Regions from separate parts of the Homo sapiens genome. Here regions 1, 3, 4 and 5 are each reported to be linked to region 2. The links are microRNA targets in miRTarBase. Many come from high-throughput screens and were not tested one by one. Region 2 holds a microRNA gene; each other region holds the end of a gene's coding sequence. Distances are from middle to middle.
What was found. Region 2 holds the annotated microRNA hsa-miR-512-3p (AAGUGCUGUCAUAGCUGAGGUC, at 1,854-1,875, shown strand). A microRNA usually pairs through its seed, bases 2 to 8, with sites in the 3' UTR of a target mRNA and lowers its output. Matches are read on the target gene's strand: a 7mer-m8 pairs with bases 2 to 8, a 7mer-A1 pairs with bases 2 to 7 and ends in A, and an 8mer does both.

Region 1: the mRNA of MASTL is a reported target of hsa-miR-512-3p. Seed matches in the 3' UTR shown: 7mer-m8 at 975-981.
Region 3: miRTarBase lists ZNF514 as a target of hsa-miR-512-3p. Seed matches in the 3' UTR shown: 7mer-m8 at 1,827-1,833.
Region 4: miRTarBase lists SUGP1 as a target of hsa-miR-512-3p. Seed matches in the 3' UTR shown: 7mer-m8 at 1,331-1,337.
Region 5: the mRNA of PLEKHM1 is a reported target of hsa-miR-512-3p. Seed matches in the 3' UTR shown: 7mer-m8 at 3,239-3,245 and 7mer-m8 at 3,230-3,236.

The regions. Positions count from the first base shown.
Region 1 is chr10:27,186,077-27,190,753 of GRCh38, forward strand. MASTL (microtubule associated serine/threonine kinase like) reads left to right here. Exons shown (of 12, transcript NM_001172303.3): 12 at 303-1,877. The coding sequence ends at 460. It also overlaps a transcript of ACBD5 not described here. Among named protein-coding and RNA genes, the nearest start is that of MASTL, 33 kb to the left of the region's middle.
Region 2 is chr19:53,667,360-53,672,036 of GRCh38, forward strand. MIR512-2 (microRNA 512-2) reads left to right here and starts at 1,798; the gene lies at 1,798-1,895. All of the region lies in intron 2 of LOC107985342 (a long non-coding RNA gene), which reads left to right. It overlaps MIR1323 (microRNA 1323), which reads left to right and starts at 4,609; the gene lies at 4,609-4,677. RefSeq lists enhancers at 1-20, 909-1,797, 1,798-2,685.
Region 3 is chr2:95,145,057-95,149,733 of GRCh38, reverse strand. ZNF514 (zinc finger protein 514) reads left to right here. Exons shown (of 5, transcript NM_032788.3): 5 at 1-4,677. The coding sequence ends at 452. Among named protein-coding and RNA genes, the nearest start is that of ZNF514, 12 kb to the left of the region's middle.
Region 4 is chr19:19,272,973-19,277,649 of GRCh38, reverse strand. SUGP1 (SURP and G-patch domain containing 1) reads left to right here. Exons shown (of 14, transcript NM_172231.4): 13 at 574-703; 14 at 976-1,617. The coding sequence ends at 1,002. TM6SF2 (transmembrane 6 superfamily member 2) reads left to right here and starts at 4,349. Exons shown (of 10, transcript NM_001001524.3): 1 at 4,349-4,529. The coding sequence starts at 4,435.
Region 5 is chr17:45,433,829-45,438,505 of GRCh38, forward strand. PLEKHM1 (pleckstrin homology and RUN domain containing M1) reads right to left here. Exons shown (of 12, transcript NM_014798.3): 12 at 2,072-4,141. The coding sequence ends at 4,030. Among named protein-coding and RNA genes, the nearest start is that of ARHGAP27, 3.3 kb to the left of the region's middle. RefSeq lists an enhancer at 2,011-2,664.

The DNA.
Region 1 (4,677 bases), not on the chromosome of region 2:
AGACCTCGTCTCAAAAAAAAAGCTGTGAGAAAGATAGGCTTCTAAGTTAAGGCAAATCATTCATTCTGTCATTAAACAAATACAAACCAGGCACCTGTCATATGCCAAGTGATATTCAAAATGGCCCATGTAGACCTTTGTGAAGTATGTGGCCTAACAGACATTAAACAAATGTCTGTGAAACTGACATAATAAAGTAAGGTAAGTTATATGTGAGACATTCTCTTTTTATAATAATTCCTGTAAAGCAGTACTTACTTAGGTAATGATATCATACTGTTTTGTTTTATATTTTTCCTAAGAGCTAAAACGTCATCCTCTCTTCAGTGATGTGGACTGGGAAAATCTGCAGCATCAGACTATGCCTTTCATCCCCCAGCCAGATGATGAAACAGATACCTCCTATTTTGAAGCCAGGAATACTGCTCAGCACCTGACTGTATCTGGATTTAGTCTGTAGCACAAAAATTTTCCTTTTAGTCTAGCCTTGTGTTATAGAATGAACTTGCATAATTATATACTCCTTAATACTAGATTGATCTAAGGGGGAAAGATCATTATTTAACCTAGTTCAATGTGCTTTTAATGTACGTTACAGCTTTCACAGAGTTAAAAGGCTGAAAGGAATATAGTCAGTAATTTATCTTAACCTCAAAACTGTATATAAATCTTCAAAGCTTTTTTCATTTATTTATTTTGTTTATTGCACTTTATGAAAACTGAAGCATCAATAAAATTAGAGGACACTATTGAGAGTGAGCCACTAGCTTGATTTTCTTTCTCCTCTGATTTCAGTTCACTGTTCAGTTTAGCATTAAAATAATAAAATAATCATACAGTTCCATTTGATTGTAATTTACTTGCATATGATTACCTTCAAAAGCTGTGTTCTTGAGGGCAATCATTTAAGGCCATACTTGTGACCTCAGAAATGCAGCTGGAAGGCCGGGCGCAGTGGCTCACGCATGTAATCCCAGCACTGTGGGAGGCCGAGGCAGGCTGATCTTGAGGTCAGGAGTTCAAGACCATCCTGGCCAACATAATGAAACCCCATCTCTACTGTAAATACACAAATTAGCCGGGCATGTTGGTGGGCGCCTGTAGTCCCAGCTACTCTGGAGGCTGAGGCAGGAGAATCGCTGGAACCCAGGAGGAGGAGGTTGTGGTGAGCCAAGATCGTGCCACTGCACTCCAGCCTGGGCAACAGAACAAGACTCCGTCTCAAAAAAATAAAGGCAGCTGGAAAATTCCTTCACTTAGTAACTCCTTTGGGGAATAAGGAATAAACAAAAAGACTAAGGCTTTCACTTACTTTACTAATGATACGGTTTTGCCACCTTAATTTCTATTGGTGCGTAGTCCACAATATGTATTTGTTTAAAATGGTACTGGAGGACGGGTGCGATGGCTCATGCCTGTAATCCCGGCACTTTGGGAGGCTGAGGCAGGCAAGTCGCTTGAGGCCTGGAGTTTGAGACCAGCCTGGCCAACATGGCAAAACCTGGTCTCTACTAAAAATAGAAAAATTAGCCAGGTATGGTGACGCACACCTGTAGTCCCAGCTACTTGGGAGGCTGAGGCATGAGAATCGCTTGAACCCAGGAGGTGGAGATTGCAGTGAGCTGAGATCACATCACTGCATTTCAGCCTGGGCAACAGAATGAGACTCAGTCTCAAAAAAAAAAAAAATACTACTGGAACAATTAGGTGTGATATAATGTAGCAATTTGAATAGCTTGTTCAATTTTAATAGAAAATGTGATGCTTTACATCTTATTGTCATTTATTTAAAACATGCAACATTATCAGAAACAGATTGGTCCTTAAAAAACAAAACATAATTTTCTTTTGCTTAATAAATATAACTATCACAAGTACATTATCTGTCAACATCATTCTTTTCAACAAAGCGAGACCCCATTTCCGGGGGAAAAAAAACTTGTTCCTTTTGCACATCGGGTTTAGTGTTTTTACTTTCCATTACCATCCCAATCAACAGCCCTGTTGCAATGTAGTTGACAAAATGTACAAATTTAAAATGGTTACAGTGAAAGATACACCATTATAATTAGTGCTATATAACTGAATCCATGGGTTAATGGTTTTACTGAGCTTGTTTTAGTAATAACTACTTAGATTTAATGGTCACTTCTAGTAAAATGTTCAAAATACAGTTGTTCAAAACTTTGAATTACATCTTTCCCTTAAATTAGGCAAAAGCATAGAATTATCTATTATCCTTTTATGGTATTTGCCAGTAGTAGAAAGAAAAAAAGTTTGGGAATCAAACACAAATTGTTGAAATCACTGCTCTGCCACAATAAAAGGCCTCTGGCAGGTTAAACTGAGCTATTGATGACTCACTGTATAGTGGGGATTAATAGTGATTAATTTGGAGAGTTGGAATGAACAGAGTAGATTGAGGAACAAGCCAATTTAGTTGCTACCCAGGATATTAACCTTAACAGGGACTTGAAACATTACTGAATAATCGGGGAAATGTTCTCTGAGCATATTCCCAATGCACAAGACAATGGCCTTGAGTGGAAAGTTACACTGTTTACTAACAGACCTAGCATGTGAAGCTATAGTCACTTGAAATTCAGCCACAGGTAAGGCATGCTGTAATGGTATTTATTGGGAACAGGTGACTTATTATCTAAATTTATACCTGTCAAGATGTAGATTCAGACACTTGCTAGGGAAAAACCTAAGAGGAAAGAACAATGGGAAAAAGGGGATGGTTTTGACAGCTGATGTATATGTGTGCATGCACGTCTTTAAAAAACACCAACGGCCACCAATAGAAATCCACTCATCTTTTGCTATGAAGGAAATCAGAACATATCATCCTAAAATGCCTCTTTGACATAAAAATATTTTTGAGCTAAAGGCAGTTAAGAAGCAGCAAACTGAGGAAAGCTCTCGCCATCCCCCTGCCTTTCTGCCCAAAGGCAGGATATAACTTCTCCTTTGCTGGAGACAATTCTAGAGTCTTATCTACCAGGGACAGCACCAGAGGAATTGGCAAAGAAACCTTATTCAATTAGTTTCCTCCCACATACAGTGTTTGCCTTCCCAAAGGTTCCAGTCCTTGGAAGCCTAAAACCACTTTCCTTTGTCCTGTCATTTCTCTACAAATGTATTGTTCTTTGTTGGCCAGGCTGGTCTCAAACTCCGGACTTCGTGATCCACCCGCCTCAGCCTCCCAAAATGCTGGGATTACAGGCGTGAGCCACCCGGCCAGCTATATACAGTTTGTATTAATAAAAAATAATTTGTGGCTGGGCATAGTGGCTCACGCCTTTATTTCCAGCACTTTGGACAGCCAAGGTGGGATGATTGCTTGAGGCCAGGAGTTAGAGACTACCCTGGCCAACATAGCAAGACCCTGTCTCTATCTAAATTTTTTAAAAACCGTCATTCTCAGCAAACTATCGCAAGGATAAAAAACCAAACACCGCATGTTCTCACTCATAGGTGGGAATTGAACAATGAGAACACATGGACATAGGAAGGGGAACATCACACACTGGGGCCTGTTGTGGGGTGGGGGGGAGGGATAGCATTAGGAGATATACCTAATGTAAATGACGAGTTAATGGGTGCAGCACACCAACATGGCACATGTATACATATGTAACAAACCTGCACGTTGTGCACATGTACCCTAGAACTTAAAGTATAATAAAAATATATATATATATATATAAATAAACTTTTGTTTTCACAACGGCATAATGTTTATTGGATGAATTTAGAAAAAGAGTAAAAAGAAAAAATAAGTTGGTATCTGTTAAAGGAAAATGTTTTATTCTTACATGAAAAATGCAAAATAATAGATGTGACTTGTTTTCCTTTGGAGCTCCAAAATAAAAATATCAGTAAACACTTATCTAAAAAAATAAAATAATAATTGTTTTTTAGGCTGGGCATGGTGGCTTACGCCTGTAATCTCAGCACTTTGGGAGGCTGAGACGAGTGGATCACAGGAGGTCAGGAGTTCGAGACCAACCTGGCCAACATGGTAAAACCCCGTCTCTACTAAAAATATAAAAATTAGCCAGGCATGATGGTGCGCGCCAGTAATCCCAGCTGCTCGGGAGGCTGAAGCTGGAGAATTGCTTGAACCTGGGAGGTGGAGGTTACAGTGAGCCAAAATGGCGCCATTGCACTCCAGCCTGGGTGACAGAATGAGACTCTGCCTCAAAAAAAATTATTTAAAAATGTTTTGTCCCACCCCCATTAAATGTTAAACAAATCCAGAAATTATGTTTGAAGAATGTCCTGTTTATCTTGGCCCACCTATGTTAGAATTAAGTAAGATGAAGTACATAGCAAACATAAAAGGTGTTTAATAAAATGATAATTATTTGAACCCTAAGTACCCTACTGCCTCCTGGAATATGTACTTTAATTTTGGGTTCGGGAAGTGGTAACTATATAAAGCCTTACTATTATGCTCCAAAACATCTTGAAGGACATTCGGGTCTAATTCCTCTATTTGCTACAAAGAACTGTCTTATTTTTAGCCATTTATAAAAATGCTGAGAGTCCAGAATATAGTACAAATATATTTACTGTTTACACCAGGTCTTTCAATTAATACCAAGCCAACCATGGATGAGTCATTCTTTTAACTGTGTGGAAAGTGTATTGTACGGGACAACATTTGAA
Region 2 (4,677 bases):
TTAGGTCCTTGTTGAACCAGAAGCAACTGGCCAGTCGTACAGATGCAACTTTCGGACCAGTAGAAAATTTCTATGTCAACCTGGAGACATAGGGATTGTACCTTTCTGATACCCTATTAGTAAATAAATAGTATTTATTTATAAATTATGTATAATAGTATTTATCTGAATATATCCCAAGCAGCCCAAGTGTGTTCCAGACATAACATTTTTATTTACATTTAAATATCACTAAGATTAGAGATACACATCTAACTCAGGTTTTCAACTAGTCTTACCATTGAAAGAACTATTGTGGCAGGACGCAGTGGCGCACGCCTATTATCCTAGCACTTTGGGAGGCCGAGGAGGGCGGATCACAAGGCCAGGAGTTCGAGACCAGCCTGGCCAGCATGGTGAAACCCCATCTCTACTAAAAATACAAAAAAATTAGCTGGGCATGATGGCACAGGCTTGCAGTCCCAGCTACTCGGTAGGCTGAGGCAGGAGAACTGCTTGAACCCGGCAGACGGAGGTTGCAGTGAGCCGAGATCGCGCCACCGAACTCCAGTCTGGGCAACAGAGCAAGACGCTTGTCTTAAAAAAGAGAGAGAAAGAACTACTTGTTCTCTGTAAGCCATGCTGGTTTAGCCAAAATGCTGCAGTTGTGTATGGCCAGGGACGTTGAGGCTGCAGTGAGCCGACGGCTGTGTTGCCGCTCTGCAGTCTGGGGGACAGAGCAAGAACCTGTCTCAAAAAAACAAGAAGTTAGTGAGACAGACATGCCGTTCTGTTACTTTTCCCCTTGCTGGTTCAAAGCTAGGTAGTTGCCAATTAAATGTAATCTTGTAGAGCAAAAATGTTTTTCATTTTTTGAGACAGGATCTCACTCTATTGCCCAGCCTGGAGTGCAGTTGTGGGAACTCACAGCAACCTCCACCTCCTGGGTTTAGGCAGTTCTTCTGCATCAGTCTCCCGAGTAGCTGAGACTACACCGGTGCCCAGAGGGCAGTGGCCAGATCTTGGCTCTCTGCAACCTCTGCCTTCCAGATTCAAGTGAGCCACCTCCGCCTCCTGAGTAGCTGGGACTATAAGTACGTACCACCATACCCAGTTAATTTTTGCATTTTTTGTAGATAAGGGGGCTAAGTATGTTTCCCAGGCTGGTTTCGAAGTCCTGTGCTCAAGCAATCCTTCTGCCTTGGCTTCCCAAACTGCTAGGATTACAGGTGAGCCACCACACCGGGCCTGTCCACGTAATTTAAAAGGTGCTGGACGTGTGCGGTGGCTCACGTCTGTAATCCCAGCACTTTGGGAGGCTGAGGTGGGCGGATCATGAGGTCGGGAGTTCGAGACCAGCCTGGCCAATATGGTGAAACCCTGTCTCTACTAAAAATACAAAAATTAGCCAGGTGTGGTGGCAGGCGCCTGTAATCCCAGTTTCTCAGGAGGCTGAGGCAGGAGAATTGCTTGAACCCAGGAGGCGGAGGCTGCAGTGAGCTGATGATCGCGCCATGGCACTCCAGCCTGGGCAACAGAGCAAGACTAAGAAAAAAAAAAGAGAAAAAGAAAAAGAAAACAAAGTAATTTAAAAGGTGTTATTCAGGCTGGGGATCCCCAAAGTGCTGGGATTACAGGCATGAGCCCCAGGGCAGGCCTAGGATTTGCATTACAAGGCTCTGCATTGTTCCTGAGAACTGGAGAGAATGCTCAATCTACCTTTCACTATTGAGCAACATTCAGAAGTCAGTTTTAAATCTCTTATCTTCTGCATAGAGGATGTGCCTGCAGTTTCCAGGTACTGGACAATACAGGGAGGGTACTTCTCAGTCTGTGGCACTCAGCCTTGAGGGCACTTTCTGGTGCCAGAATGAAAGTGCTGTCATAGCTGAGGTCCAATGACTGAGGCGAGCACCGAAAAAACACCATGGGGGGGAGGGGGGGCGGGGGGCTCCAGGAGCCACTGCAGGTAAAAGCTAAACCGTGGTGCTTGTTCTGCGCCATAAACTGGACTTCAGCCCAGCTTTAAGGAAATGACCAGGGTCTCTGGGTTGTGAGGCTGGGTTCCGTAGCAGCTATAATGCTTGGATTCAGGGATAGCCTGGGTCACACCATTGCCAGAGAAGAGGCAACCAATCCAGACCCCAAAAGCGGGTTCTTGGATCTCTTGCTGGAAAGAATTTCGAGGCAAGTCACAACACAATGAAAGAAGCAAGCTGAGGCCGGGCGCGGTGGCTCACGCCTGTAATCCCAGCACTTTGGGAGGCTGAGGTGGATGGATCACCTGAGATCACTATTTTTCTTTTTATTTTCTGAGATGGAGTTTCACTCTTGTTGCCCAGGCTAGAGTGCAATGGCACGATCTCGGCTCACAGCAACCTCTGCCTCCCGGGTTCAAGCCATTCTCCTGCCTCAGCCTCCGGAGTAGCTGGGATTACTGGCATGCGCCACCACGCCCAGCTAATTTTGTATTTTTAGTAGAGACGGGGTTTCTCCATGTTGGTCAGACTGGTCTCCAACTCCCAACCTCAGGTGATCCGCCCGTCTCGGCCTCACAAAGTGCTAGGATTACAGGCGTGAGCCACCGCACCCAGCCTGTTTTCTGCATTTTTAGTAGAGACAGAGTTTCACTATGTTGGCCAGGCTGGTCTCAAACTCCCGACCTTGTGATCTGCCCGCCTCGGATTCCCAAAGTGCTGGGATTACAGGCGTGAGCCACCGCGCCCGGCCTTATTTTTCTTTTTTTTTTTTTGAGACAGGATCCCACTCTATTGCCCAGCCTGGAGTGCAGTGCAGTGATCTCAGCTCACTGCAACCTCTGCCTCCCGGGTTCAAGCAATTCTCCTGCATCAGCCGCCCAAGTAGCTGAGATTACAGCCGTGCCTGGCTTATGTTTTGTGTTTTTAGTGGAGATGGGGTGCCACCATGCTGGCCAGGCTGGTCTTAAACTCCTGACCTCAGTTGATCCTCCCACCTCAGTCTCCCAAAGTGCTGGGATTACAGGTGTGAGCCACCGCGCCCAGCAAGCATAAGATTTTTTGACACATGGAGGATCACTTGCTGGATGTGCACTGAGAAGTAATGTGCCCATTTCCCAGCCACACTCTCCCAAAGGCTTTTACAGGCGCTGTCCCCGTGAGGTGGTAGAACAGAATGTCAGAATTCAACACATTCCAACACTGTCTTCTGTTGAGCTGTAGGAGGACTGCCTGTGGAGGGACATGGGTTCTATGCTACCTTGCAGGTTTTCCCTGGGGCTTGTGATCACTGTCTCCTTGGTGACATGCAATCTGGGAGTGCTTTCTGGAGTCTGATAAGAACATACTGGCACATTGCCTGTGACGTGTGGGACCCAGGCATTTTCAGTGCTGAGGTGAGTCCTTGATTGTAACTGATGGGGACTGGTATCTTAACTCCAGGTTACTGAAGACTAGGAATTTCTTGCCTTACAGTAAAATTGCAAAGAAGAGTAGCATAAGAGGTAGATCAGAAGACTGCAGAATAGATTAACAAATGAATGCCCAAATGAGGATGCTAAACTTGGATTTGCATCAAGAAGACAGATATTGGTCGGGCGTGGTGGCTCACGCCTGTAATCCCAGCACTTTGGGAGGCTGAGGCGGGTGGATCATCCTGGCTAACACGGTGAAACCCCGTCTCTACTAAAAAAATACAAAAAAATTAGCCGGGCGTGGTGGCAGGCGCCTGTAGTCCCAGCTGCTGGGGAGGCTGAGGCAGGAGAATGGCATGAACCCAGGAGGCGGAGCTTGTAGTGAGCCGAGATCGTGCCACTGCACTTCACCCTGGGCGACAGAGCGAGACTCTGTCTCAAAAAAAAAAAGGACAGGTATTAGGATAGTTTTGAAGCCCACTTGCTCCTATCATGGCATTGAAGCATCAGTTTGCTGCCAATCACTCCTTCTTCTGTGTTCATAGACAGGACTGTGGAAATGTACACTTGGATTCTTTCACAGGTAATGCTGAGAAATTTAAAACCAAAAACGGCCGGGTGCCGTGGCTCCTGCCTGTAATTCTAGCACTTTGGGAGGCTGAGGCGGGCGGATCACAAGGTCAGGAGTTCGAGAGCAGCCTGGCCAATATGGTGAAACCCCATCTCCACTAAAAATACAAAAATTAGCCTGGCATAGTGGCGGGCCCCTGAAGTCCCAGCTACTCAGGAGACTGAGTAGACGAGGAGAATGGCTTGAACATGGGGTGCAGAGGTTGCAGTGAGCTGAGATCGCACCGCTGCACTCCAGCCTGGGCAACAAGAGTGAAACTCTGTCTCAAAAAAAAAAAAAAATTTGAAATTAAAGTGTATGATTAGAGTGCATGATTGGTTCTGACTGGATGTGTAACATGTGCATAGCCTTCTCATAAATCAAAGGTTTTTATGTGAAACCTACCACTAGTGATGTAACTGAATTTGTGTAAATGCTGGTGTGTCTGCCTTTTCCTAGCAACTCCCTGGGCAGCCTGAGGATTCTTTGAGGTTATTTTTTTTCAAGATCTGGCTGGGAGCTTCTGCATGAGTGCTGTGTGAACGTCCTCCATCTGCAGTGTGAGGACAGCGAACCCTAGTGTGAGTTAACCACGTAGGAAGAGTTTGAAGTCAGACATGACATTCAGACTGAGGTCCTCAAAACTGAGGGGCATTTTCTGTGGTTTGAAAGGAAAGTGCACCCAGTTTTGGGGATG
Region 3 (4,677 bases), not on the chromosome of region 2:
AAAGAACTCATACTGGAGAAAAGCCCTATGAATGCAGTGAATGTGGGAGAGCCTTCAGCCAGAGTTCGTCTCTTGTTCTGCACTATAGATTTCACACTGGAGAGAAACCCTACAAATGTAATGAATGTGGACGAGCCTTTGGTCACACTTCATCCCTTATTAAGCATCAGAGGACTCATACTGGAGAAAAGCCCTATGAATGCCGGGAATGTGGGAGAACCTTCAGCCAGAGCTCATCACTCATTGTGCATTACAGATTTCATACTGGAGAGAAACCTTACAAATGTAATAAATGTGGGAGAGCCTTCAGCCAGAGTTCATCTCTCACTCAACATTACAGATTTCACACTGGAGAGAAACCCTACAAATGTAATGAGTGTGGAAGGGCCTTTGCTCATACTGCATCCCTTATTAAACATCAGAGAAGTCATGCTGGAAAAAAAACCCTATAAATTCAGTGAATATAGAAGGGCTTTCAGCTGGAGTGCAGACATCACTGGAACTTAAAGAATTCATATCAGAGAGAGATCCTAAAGGTGTAATGTATGTGGGAAGACCACATCTTGTTCCACATCAGGCAATAATTACTAAAGAGAATCCCTGTCAATGTCAAGAGGGGGTGGGCTTCCCCTCTCTTACCAAACATGGGAGAATCCATACTAGTGAGAAACCACGTGAATGTAATGAATGTGGGAACGCTTTGATCAGAGGATGCATATTATTCAGCATCAGACAGCCGACACTGGGGAGGAGCCTTATCAATGCAGTGAGTGTGGCAAGCCTTCAGTTACATACTGATTCTTTAAGAAAATCAGATAACTTGTACTGGAGAGAAATCCTACAAGTGTGGTAAGTATGGAAAAATCTTCAGTTGTATCTCTTCCTTTACTAAGCATCAAGAACACATACTAGAGAGAGGCCCTATGAAAGCAGGAAATAGAGGAAGGCCTTCAGTCAGGGCTCATCCCTTATTAAGCATCAGAAAATTCATACCTGAGAAAAACCTGTGAATGTGGGTAATGTGGGAGAGCCTTCAGCCAAACCTCATTGCTTTATAAACCCCTTAGAACTCTCCCTACTAGCTGGAAACTCTGGTGACGTGATGAATGTGGGAAGGGCTTTGGTGGATGTTCCACCAAAACACGTTAGAGAATTTGTACATTAGAGAATTTGTGCTAGAGCAACTCTTCAAATTTAGTGAAACTGGGAAAACCCATTAGTAGAGTTCAAGCTTCAGTATTCATCTCAAAGAGAAACCTTGGGAACATGATGAATGTGAGGAAAGTTCCTTTCCAACTTGAGATGTATAAAACTAGAGCTGAAAAGAAGCTGAGAAATCACCTTGTCTGGTGATTTTCTGCCTGGTGGGGCCATTTGTATAACGACACTTGTGCATTGCCTCCTCATGCTGTTACTGACGGGGCAGGGTGTCATGCATGGGTGCAGAGGATGGAGGCTGAGAAAGGTAGACAGCTACCCATGATCTAGCCCAGTCGTATTTTAGAGCTAATAAAACTGATGTTCAGAAAGTGACATGCCTTGGCCTATAGTCCTAACTGGGCTGGGCCTCTTTCCTGTGGTTCACAGCTGTAGTATGGAGATTAATAGACTGGATCTTTGCAGTACAACACCTCTATGCACTTCTTTCTCTGTAGCACATGTTACCTTTCTTTGTGAGGCAATGGAGTGGTCTAGGATTGAGCAAAAAGCAATTTTTGTTACATCTTTATGCTAATAGATTTGGAATTTTTGAAATGAAATGAAACCTTGTTTAAACATTAAAATTACTAAAATAGGCTGGGCGCGGTGGCTCACGCCTGTAACCTCAGCACTTTGGGAGGCCGAGGCGGACAGATCACGAGGTCAGGAGTTCGAGACCATCCTGGCTAACACAGTGAAACCCTGTCTCTCCTAAAAATACAAAAAAATTAGCCAGGCATGGTGGCGGGCGCCTGTAGTCCCAGCTACTTGGAAGGCTGAGACAGGAGAATGGCGTGAATCGGGGAGGCAGAGCTTGCAGTCAGCCGAGATCACGCCACTGCACTCCAGCCTGGGAGACAGAGTGAGACTCCGTCTCAGAAAAAAAAAAAAAAAACAACTAAAATATGGGTATTATGCACAATCCAGATCTCAAAAACGTGATTCTAAGTGAAAGAAGGCAGATGCCAGAGACCAGGTATTTTCTAGTACCATTTTAGGAAATGTCCAGAAATGGCAGATCTTCAGAAACAAAGTAACTGCAAATGTTACAAGGAATCTTTTTAGGGTGACGAAAATGTTCTAAAACTAGATGGTGGTGATGGTTGAACGATTTGGTAACTTCACTAAAAATCATTGAATTGTTCACTTTATATGGGCAGATTTTATGGTAAATATACCTCAATAAAATCATTTTTCAAAATCAAATTTACACATATACCAACCATTGCTAAACAAGTATTCCTGTTTTGTTTGTTACTTCAAGCCATCTATGCATTTTTGGTATCACTTTTTATTTTCTGTAACAGTTACCCCTACATTTACTGGGTCTCAGAACCTTGTCAGGCTCTGCTTTAAAGTTCCTACCATGTTGGCTCTGTAACTCAGGTGGAGAAGCCTAGACCAGGAGCTGGCGTAGACCAAAGGATACTTGCCTAATAAGGATTAGCTTATACTGAGGAAAATACTTTAAGCATTTAAAGTCCAGATGAGGAAGTTGAGCCCAGAATTCAGGGAACCAGCTCAAAGTGGGCCCATGCAGACAGGCTGGGTCTAAGAGTCCACAAGGTTGGCCAGGGCAGGTAGGATGCACAGGAGGCATCTGGATCTGGAAGTACTTGGACAGCTGAGGTCAAGATCACACAGAAATTTATTCCTGGACAGCCAAGGTTTACAGGAGCAGAAATAGCAAATATTTTCTTGCTCCGTCTCTCCCTTTTTTCCCAGTGCCCTTTTCTGTACCTACCCAGATCACTTTATACCTAGACATCTGTCACAATTTTGTAACTGGTCTTCGTCCAAAATCTGTCTCCTCTTCTCATGTATCCTTGCCATATTAACCATACTTACCAGTTTGAACCCAGTGTCCTGCCCTCCAAAAATCCTTTGCACGGCCTACAAGATAAATCCTCACCCCCCGTGTGTGGTATATAATGCCCTCTTTAGGCTGCTCCAACCTCCTGCTGCTCCTGACAGAAGCCTCCATTGCACACAAATGCTCTCTTGTCATCCCTCAGACATGCCTTTCCACATCTCAGCCTGCAAACCTTTACCTTAGCTGTTCTATCAGCCGGGGGCACCTTCTCTACTTACCTAAAGCCTACATAATCAGTCAGAAACCTGTGTAAATTTCCCTTCCTTGGAGAGGTGTTCTCTTGAAAACTGATATGAAGTCATATCTTACCATTTGTAATCATAAACATATTTGTTTGTGTAAGTTTTTAAAAATGGACAATATCTAGACTTGTGGTAAATCGTATCACTGTCTTGATCTATTTAAATAATTTTTTATCACTTTACCACTTTCTTGTTTCCTGAACCAGATGACAATGGAAAAAGTCAAATGGTAAAATATTTTAAGAGATTTATTCTGAGATAAATATGAGTGACCTGTAGGCACAGTTGACCAGCATTTGCCTTAAAACAGAGACCTTAAGACTAACAAAAACAGACTCTTTGTAGCAATAACAACATGACAGTAAGTCCTGAGAGAAATCAAAGTGTTTTACGCCAAAATAGATTTAAGTCTGATAAGAAACAAGTCTGACACAGCCCCAGGAGATCCTGAGAACATGTGCCCAAGGTGGCTCTTGTCAGGAGCAGCAGCAGGTTGGGGCAGCCTAAAGAGGACATTACCAAACACGGGAGTGAGGATTTATCTTGTAGGAAGTGCAAAGGATTTTTGGAGGGCAGGACACTGGGTTCAAACTGACGAGTATGGTTAACATGGCAAAGGTACGTGAGAGGAAGAGACAATTGTGCTGTCAGGCTACAGCTTGGTTTCATGCATTTTTACATTTTAGGGGAATGTAAGACATCAATACATGTAAGATTTACATTGGTTCGATGGAGAAAGGCAGGACAACTTGAAGCTGGTGGGGAAGGGACAGGGACAGAGGGAGGGCCTTCTGGGTTATAGGTGGATTCAAAGATTTTCTGATTGGCAGTGGGTTTATCCAAAGACCTGGAATCAATAGAAGGGAATGTCTGGGTTAAGATAAGGTGTTGTGGAGACCAAGGTTCTTACTGTGAGATGAAGCCAGAAGGTAGCAGGCTTCAGAGAGAATAGATTGTAAATGTTTCTTATCAGACTTAAGAGAAATTTATTTTAGGATAAAATACTTAGATTTCTCTCAGGGCCTGTTATCTGTCATGTTATCTTATTGCTACAAAGAGCCTGTTTTTGTCAGTCTTAAGGTCTCTGTTTTAATGTTAATGCTGGTCCACTGTGCCTGAATTCCAAAGAGAGGAAGGTATAATGAGGTATGTCTGACCACCCATTCCCATCATGGCCTGAGCTAGTGTTTCAGGTTTACTTTAGAATGCTCTTGGCCAAGTGGAAGGGTCGATTCAGTTGGTTGTGTGCTTAGAATTTTATTTTTGACTTACATAGACTATCAGCTGCTTCATGTCACATCTCATGCTTCTCTTATGTTGCCCAGTTTTCTCAGTGCTTCCGACTGCATGTTTTTGTACTAT
Region 4 (4,677 bases), 34 Mb from region 2:
TCATCGCTTTTCCCTTGTGGCAAAATGATCACAGCACCCCACTGCACACCCCTTGTCAGGCACAGGCCTGCAGTGCAGGAGGCCATACGGGCTGGGTCCTCCCCAGTCCCAGGGCCTCCTTCCGTCCCCTCATGAGTATCTCCAGGCCAGATGGGGTGGGTGAGGGTACAGATGGGTCAGGCCTTGTCTGCCTTGTGAAGGGCCTTATTTGAATTCCCCATGAGTGCGAAACCACTCCCAGAGATGGGCAGGAGCTCTCCCAGGTGTGACCCTGGCCCCGAGTGCCCCCTTCAAGGCTGTCCTTGAGTAACCATCCTGCCATCCCAAGAGCTGCGACAACTTGCACTGTGGGCTCCTCCTTCCTGTGTGGGACCCTGGGGCCTAGGCCCCCCCCCCCCGCCCGCCCCGGGGGTCTCCCCTCCTTGACCATTCAGGTTCAAGCTTCTCTCTGTGCAGATATGTCCCAGCCCAGCCCTGCACCCGCGGGAGGTGCTGTTGAGAGCCCAGCTGTGCCCGGCCCCCCGGCCAGAGTTCTGGCCCCAGGTCCCTGCTCACATCCTCTTCTCCCTGTAGGGGCACCACCACAGTGGACGGCGCTGGCTTCGGCATTGACCGGCCGGCGGAGCTCTCCAAGGAGGACGACGAGTATGAGGCGTTCCGCAAGAGGATGATGCTGGCCTACCGCTTCCGGCCCAACCCCCTGGTACGCATGTCCTCCTGGGCTGCCTTTGCTCAGTCGACAGGAGAGGGTGGTGGTAGGAACAGAAGGCTCCCTTCCTTCCTCAGTCCAGCCAGGCTGGGTCTCACCAGCGAGCCCCCTACCACCCACCTGCATTCAAGCCCCCACCCGTCCCCCAAGCCTGCCCTGCCACCTCAAGGGTGCGGGCTCAGCTGCCTCCGGAAGGTTCCAGACAGGAGGAACTGCTGTCTTTAGTGCTAATCCCCTCCTCCTGTTATCTGTTTTGCCTTCCACAGAACAATCCCAGACGGCCTTACTACTGAGTGTTCTGGAAATACATACTTTCTGAATGACCAACCGTCCCTGGACTGTGGAATGTTCCGGCCTGCATTTCTGCCCACCCCTTCCGTTGTCACGAGTGCCGTGCCGTGTAATAAAGTCCCAGTGCTCATCCACCACAGATGCCTGGTCCTGTTGCAGGAAGCCCCTCCTGTTAGCAGCGGGATGCAAGATGCTGTCTCGGGGCTCTCCTTATTGGCCTGTGGAGTCTCCATCCCCGCTCAGCCTGGGTTGCACTGGAGGGGAGGAAGAAAGTTGTTTTCAGCATAGTAAAGCTGGAAGGCCAGGTGCAGTGTCTCACCCCTGTCATCCCAGCACTTTGAGAGGCCAAGGCGGGCGGATCACTGGAGGTCAGGAGTTTAAGACCAGCCTGGCCAACATGGTGAAATCCTGTCTCTACTAAAAATATAAAATTAGCTGGGCATGGTGGTGCACACCTGTCGTCTCAGCTACTCGGGAGGCAGAGGCAGGAGAATGGCTTGAACCTGGGAAGCGGTTGCAGTGAGCCAAGATTGCGCCTTTGCACTCCAGCCTGGGCAAGAGAGCAAGACTCTGTCTCAAATAATAATAATAATAATAAAGCTGGAGACTTGGCCACACCTGGGCTAAAGGAATGTCAGGAACCTCCGAGCCTAGCACTGTGCTGCAGAGGGAGGTTGGGGAGGGGTCTCCAGGCAGGGCCCCACCTTCCCTCAGACCTGTGGGGGCAGGTGGCTTCTGGGCACACCCATGTGCTCTCCTGGCAGGTGGTGCTGGCACGGCCCAGCACACAGGTGTTGGCTGTGGCCCTTCAGGTCCCACCAGTGTGGTAGGCACACGAGTCCCTGGGGCTTGTGTCGTTAGGGGACAGCCGCATGGATGCATGGATGTGCCATGCCAACATGTCAGGCAGCTCCTAGAAGGAAGGGCCTCAGAGCCGGAGGTTTTGAGGCAGGAGGGTAGCCCAGGCCACAGTGTGTGCCAAGACCCCCACATCTGCCCCAGGGCCAGAGCCCCACATTTGTGCCTAAGTCACCCTGGGGATCTTGTTAAGCTGCAGCTGCCGAGTCAGCTGGTTGGGCAGGGCCCTGGGAATTTGCATTTCCATCTGCCCCCACCCCCTCCACACACACCCAGTGGGTGCTGCCCAGCCCCTGCAGGCACCAGGGGCTCCCTATTCACATGCTTGGCATGGAGTCGGGCTCCTGGGCCAGCTTGTGTTCACACAGCCATTCAGCAAACACTAGGTGCCAAGTGTGGGGACCAGGTGGACAAGATCTACTCCAGTCAGCCAGGCTGCTGGGGATGAGGTCTGAGGCTGCTACTGAGAGGAACCAGGGAGCCGTGGTGGGGCGGTCTGCAGAGTGTCTCAGTGGGGTCTGAGACCAGGGAGGTGCCAGATGCAGTGGCAGAGCCAAGGCTGGGGTGATATACCACCCTTTGTTCTTTCCTGACGCTGTGGCTGAGGCAGAGCAAAGAGTAACATTGGTGGGCTTGGCCTGGGTGCCCATGAATGAGGGCTGCCCAGAAGGCAGTGGGCCAGGACCCTGAGCACAGCGGGGTAGTTCTCTGCAGCCAGTGGTTCAGGGAATCCTGGCACTGGGTCCCAGGCATTCAGCCATCCAAGTCACTTCTCAGTTCTCAGCAACCTGGAGGCTCACCAGGCTCAGGGCATGGACTTTACCCCTTGCCAGGGGACGAGGCCTCCAAGTGCTGTGTGCGTGTGCAGGTGCATCCTGTACACGGGACAAGGCCAAGCCCCTAGGCTGAGCTGGGCACAGGCACCCTGGCCTTGTGTGGAGAAGGTGGGGTGGGGGTGGCAGGCAGGGCTGCCTGGAGGAGGGGATGCTGGGGCCCGCTTACAAGAAGGCTCATTTTACAGACAGAAAGCAGGCCTGGGGGGTGTTGACCCTGCTAGAGTTGGGGAAAGTCCAGGGGAACCTGAACTTCACCCATGGGCAGTGGACACCTGGGGAAGGAGGCTGAGTCAGACCTGCGGCCAGAAGACCCTCTTGTGGCCCAGTTCAGGAAGACCTGTGACCCAGTTGGCATCAAGCTAAGGGGCTGCGTGCAGAATGGGGCCTGAGGTAGGGGCAGTGGTTAGAATTTGTGCCAGCTGCAGACTGGGGTCCCGCAGGGCAGGCGTCAGGTGGGCATGGTTCACCTTGCTGTCTGCAGCATCCACAAGTACTCCACATGGGCCAGAGTCTGGTTGGAGGGGGTGACAAAGACAGATGGTCTCCTTATTCTCCCCCCCAATACTGTGGCCCCCTCCCAGCTGTTCAAAACCTCCCACAGCCTCTCACAGCTGTCTCGCTTCTCATCACACCCCAGCAGAACCGACCTCCTTTCCACTGCTCAGTTCCAAGCCTGAGCCACTTTCCTCCCTGCCAGGAACACCGTTCCCAAACTCTTCACCAAACTGGCTCCATCCCGATATTCTAACTTCAGCCCCCACCCGCTAGGACCCCTTCTACCCTCTCCCCGAAATGAAGAACCCTAAACCCGGGACTAGCCTGCAAAGGGACAGCCCCGGAGTCAAAGCCTCACACTTAAAGACCCCTCGCAGTGGCTCACGCCTGTAATCCCAGCTCCTCGGGAGGCTGATGTGGGAGGATCTGTTGAGCCCAGGAGTTTGAAACCAGTCTGGGCAAAAAAGTGAGACCTCTGTCTTTACAAAAAATAACTAGCTGCGCGTGGTGGTGCATACCTGTAGTCCCAACTACTTGGGAGGCTGAGGTAGGAGGATCTCTTGAGGCTGGGAGTTCAAGGAGGAGGGCCACTGCACTCCAGTCTGGGCCACAGAGTGAGACCTCTCAAAAAACAAACAAAAAAACTTCACACCTGCCTGGAAACACGTTTACATTTGTGGCCACCTTATGAAAACTCAAATCTAAGCCCACTGAAAGGCATTTTGCACCCAAGAGCTGGAGGTTGCTCCATCCGTGCGCACAGGGAATGCCGACTTGATCTTTGGGTGGGGATGGGAAACTCTGGGGAATGCAGAGGTTTAGAAGCGCAGAGTCCAGGAGAAAATTTCCTTAGAACGAAGTTGTGGAGGCAGGGGAAAGAGGGGGCACGCCAGGACCTCCAGGGCGCACCCCTTGGCCTAAGAGCAGAAGCATCCCGAGGTGTTGTGTCCCAGCCTTTGACAGTGAGGGAAACTGAGGCTGAGTAGCGGGACGGCCATTGGAGACGAGGGTGTCGATGGTGAGGGGCGAAGGGGCGGGGCAGCTGCCAGGGGGAGGGCCGGGGAGGGGCCTTGGAGGCTCCCTGGGAACACGCAGGGCGGTCACGGCGGCCTGCCCAGGGCGCAGCGGGGTCGACCTTTGTGCGGGGCGGGTCCCTGGCAGCCTCGGCCCGGACTCGCCGCCAACGAGGAGCCGAGCGCCCTGGAGAACGCGTCGGGGCTGAGCCGGGGTCCAGCAGCCGCCGCTATGGACATCCCGCCGCTGGCCGGCAAGATCGCGGCGCTGTCGCTGAGCGCCCTCCCGGTGTCCTACGCGCTCAACCACGTCTCGGCGCTCTCGCAGTGCGTGCGGAGAGGGGCCAGGGCGGCCTTGGGGACAGTGGGGGCGGGCGGGGGCGGGGAGGACTGGAGGTGGGCTGGAGGGAGGATGCGCGGTCCGCGGACCTGGCTTCTGCGAGCCCTGCGCCCCAGCTCAGCTCCGACCCGGCAG
Region 5 (4,677 bases), not on the chromosome of region 2:
GCCGGGCACGGTGGCTCACGCCTATAATCCCAGCACTTTGGGAGGCCGAGGCGGGCGGATCATGAGGTCAGGAGATTGAGAAACCCTGGCTAACACGGTGAAACCCCGGCTAACACGGTGAAACCCCGTCTCTACTAAAAATATAAAACATTAGCCGGGCGTGGTGGCGGGAGCCTGTAGTCCCAGCTACTCCGGAGGCTGAGGCAGGAGAATGGTGTGAACCTGGGAGGCGGAGACTGCCGTGAGCCATGATCGTGCCACTGCACTTCAGCCTGGGCGACAGAGCAAGACTCCGTCTCAAAAAACAACAACCAAAAAAGAAAAAAAGAAAATCGTGGCTGGAGGAATCTTCTCTCCCTCCCTACCTTTTAGGTCCCTCTCCACCTGCAGCACAGCCAGGCAGTGGCTGGCAGTGGTGATGGTCTTTGCGTGGGGTCAGGCAGGTATGATGCCCCACTCTGCTGCTTGGCGGCTGGTAGGCCTTGGGAGTTCTGCCTTATCTCTGCAGCTCAGATTTCTTTCCTGTCAATGGGATAGTAACACCCACTTCACTGGATTATTGGGAAGATTAAATGAGGTCCACTAAGCAGTGCTTACCACATGCCCAGCGCACACAATATATCAGCTATTTTTTTTAAGACAGAGTCTCACTCTGTCTCCCAGGCCGAAGTGCAGCGGCACGATCTTGGCTCACTGCAACCTCCGCCTCCGGGTTCAAGTGGTTCTCCTGCCTCAGCTTCCTGAGTAGCTGGGATTACAGGCACCCGCCATCATGCCCAGTTAATTTTTGTATTTTTGTAGAGACGGGGTTTCACCATGTTGGCCAGGCTGGTCTTGAACTTCTGACCTCAGATGATCCAACCTCCTCGGCCTCCCAAAATGCTGGGATTACAGGTGTGAGCCACCATGCCGGGGTACATCAGCTATTATGACTACTTACATTATATGATAAGCTCTTGGGGGTTGGATTGGAATCTCCAAACCACCTGTCCTCCTTCAGAGAGAAGAGGAAAAGGGGAAGTCTCAGCTACTCAGGAGGCTGAGGCAGGAGAATTGCTTGAACCCGGGAAGTGGAGGTTGCAGTGAGCCAAGATCACGCCACTGCACTCCAGCCTGGGCATTGGAGTGAGACTGTATCCAAAAAAAAAAAAAAAAAAAAGGGAGGGGAGAAGGGGAAACAAGTGGCCTCAGGGGCGCTTTGCTGAGGCTGGAGAGGGCCTGAACCCACCGGCAGGGCAGCACCAGGTCACGTGCTGTGGCCCTCCTCTGGGCCTCCCTCTCCCAGTTTCTCTTCTCTTCTCCGGGCCTACCATCTACTGTCCTGGAGGGAGGTGAAGCCCTTGGGGGAAGCTGGGGCACCTAGATTGGCAGAGGGTGCCACCTTGTAATCTGAAAGGGGCCTTTAAGGACAGGAAATCTCAGACCTGAATGTTGTCTGTTTCCATCCCATTTTACTGCAACCTGATTTCCCTGAGAATTAAGTCTGTTTCCTGCTCCTGTTCTTAAAATGGACAGTGGTGTGGGCCTCCCCTTGGAGGGGTCCCCTGGGCTTCTCCTGGAACTTCTGAGGAAGGTCAGCAGCCAAGTAAAAGTCATTTTGAGCCCTAAAACCATGAGCCCTGAATCGGGGGATCCACTTAAATAACCCTTCTTTCCTGAGCCCCATCTCTCCTTTATTTCTCCTCTGAGAAATGTCCCCTGTATCCTGAGGTTTCACATGATCCAGTGTCAAGGGTCTGTGTTTTGACATTTAAGTCACAGGAAAAGAAGCCACCGGCGTGGGATCAGCTTGAGTTGTTATACAAGTGTGGGTACACCTCCCCAGAGACCCTGAGATCCTACCCCAGGAAGAGCCTGACTGCTGGGCTTGGCAAGGTGGTTTTCTTACTCTCTTCTCCCTGCCCACTCCTGGCATGCAAGCCCTCTGCCTACAAGTGTTTGCCACGGACCTCCCAAGCCTTCCCCCGTGCCAGGGACTAACATGAGGGTAGGGGACCCTGACAGATGGTAACAGATGGCTGGTGGTCTCCCCCCTGGCCGTGGCAGTGTTAGAATTCAGAAGCCAGACCAGTGATGAGAAAGATCAGGTCTTTACTGCAAAATCATTCAAAACTCACACGGCAGCAATTCCTTCAATACATTGCAAAGACTCCTCAGGGCCAGAGCCCTGCTCACTAGGAACAGTGTATTGCATAAAATAACATTTTAAAAATAGTGTGGGCACTACCTTTCTGAGGGAGGGGAGGCGGGAAGAGTCAATGCATCTGAAAGCACTGGCAGCTTCTGGGGAACGGGCCCCCCAGGGCCTCAAACCTGCTGCCTCCGAGGGCACCTTCGGGGAGAATCCTCACAGGCCCAAGCCCTCCCCAGGCCAGGCTCCTGCCCACTCAGGGATGGGGCAATGAGGGCTCTGACTAGGCTGGGCTTGTGGTGGAGCGTTAATGTGGGCCATGGCGGTGCATAACCCAGCTCCTGGCTTAGGAGGCATTGGCGTCTGGGCACAGGTGTGTGCCATGACCGGGAGAAGCTGTGCGCAGCCTCCACCTGCCTGCCACCGTTGCCTCTGTTCTGCTGCACAGGCATCCAGCTCCAAGGCTGGGTGGGTGACTCAGCAGCTAATCGCCCCCAGGGAAGGGTGGGGGTGGGCTCATCTCTGACAGTGACATGCGGCTCTCCACCTGAGGCCTGACTCCAAGCTGAGCGCAGGTAAGACAGCTAGGACTGAGGGCCTGCTAGGTCCAGGAGAGGTGGGGGAAGGCGACAGAGAGACCAGCAAACCCACATTTCCCCGAAGCCTGGAGGGTCTGACCATCACTTTGAAAACAATTCCAGACTCCCACCCCAGCCCCAAGGCCCCTTCAAAGGCAGTCCTGCTCCGGGGAACTTCTTCAGTCTCCAGTGTCCCGGCTGGGCAAGTTCAGTGATGCTTTGGGAATTCATGGCTTTGTGAGGTGGTGGCTGCATCCACAGGGCAGTTCCCCCGCACGCCCTGCACAGCTTAGGACCAGGTCACTTCTCCACAGTGCAGGGCGTGGCTGCCTGCCCTCTCTGGGGTCCTGCCTATCTGTGCCCTGGCAGGGGTCAGTCAGGCAGAGAGTGTGACCCCGGGCACCCACCAAGGTGGGCCTGGAGCATCTGCAGCAGCGCCCCTGTCTGTAGAGGGGTGAGGAGCGCACGGGGATCGGGGGTGGGCAAGACGGCGACCCTCCATAAACCGAGGAGGGCTCAAAGTGCTGACAGTGCTGGTTTCCAGTCATTTCTCCTTCTCCTAATGGGGCCAAGGCCCCAGGCTAGAGAAGAGCTAGGGGCTCTGACGCTGAGAAAGCGGTGGGCTCAGCAGGCGAGACGCACTGGGGTGGGGAGTAAAGAGGACACAGAGGAACCGGGGTCGCCAGGACTGGCCCTGCCCTGCTGAGGGGCGGTTTGGCACTGGCAGTGAGGGCCAAGGAAAGGCACTGGGTGGGCCCATAGACCCTGTCCCAGCAGTGGCCTGCCCACCAGCCACCCGCTACCTCTAAGCCAGGCCTGAGTGGCTCCTGTGCATCCGCTGGGGGTGAGAATGTCTGGATTTCATGGGTGACTCACGTAGGGTCAAGAATAAAAAAATACTTTCTGTTGAAATATGAATGGGAAAAACCCACCTTAAAAAACTAGACCTTTTAATCAGGAATGTGGAATTGAAAATGCTCCCCAAGTCCCCTTTCCACAGTGTTTGGGCAGCCCTAACGGAGGCGCCGGGACGCTGGTGAGCCAGGGCCTGGTGAGTAAACGGCCCTGCCTGCCCCAGACAGGGAGCATCTGGTGGTGGCCACGCCTCCTGCAGCAGAGGGGTGGGGGGAGGGCCAGGGGACACCACGGGGACTTCCTGGGCTTTCTCTGGGAGGCCGGTGCTCTGGCCACATCTGAGGGTCTTCCTGACAAGGGGACACAGCTGTGACACGGTGAGTATCCTGGGCTGATGGCAAACCCAGCCGGGATGGCTGAGCCACACTCACCCCCGGCTTTCAGAGCGGGGTCAGCAGATGGGCATCAGGCGAAAATGTTCTGTTCCTGGTACTTGCGCCGGCGGGCACAGCGGGGGCAGCCCTTCTTCACCACAGCCTGGCAGCTCTGGTGGAAGACGGTCTTGCACTCGGCACACCTGGGGAGAGAGCAGTAGGCCTGCTGGTGCCGGCTGGGCTGGAGGTTGCCCTGTGGCCACGCTGGCCAGCCCTTTTGACCAGAACCCACGATACGGCTGTGATGTACTGTGTAACCCATGCACGCACACCGTGCCTCTCCGTTCTGGAACAGGAGAGTCTTGAAACAGTGCTTACCCATACGTCACACAATGCACACTGATATTCTCTGTCCTATTGCATTTTTTATAAATGCTGCTTGAGATTCATTAAAGATCTCTTGCCTATATTTAAAAAATATTTACGGCCAGGCGCAGTGGCTCACGCCTTTAATCCCAGCACTTTGGGAGGCCGAGGTGGGCGGGTCACAAGGTCAGGAGATCGAGACCATCCTGGCTAACACAGTGAAACCCTGTCTCTACTAAAAATACAAAAATTAGCCGGGCGTGGCGGTGTGTGCCTGTAGCCCCAGCTGCTGGGGAGGCTGAGGCAGGAGAATGGCATGAACCCGGGAGGCAGAGCTTGCAGTGAGCCGAGACTGCACCATTGCACTCCAGCC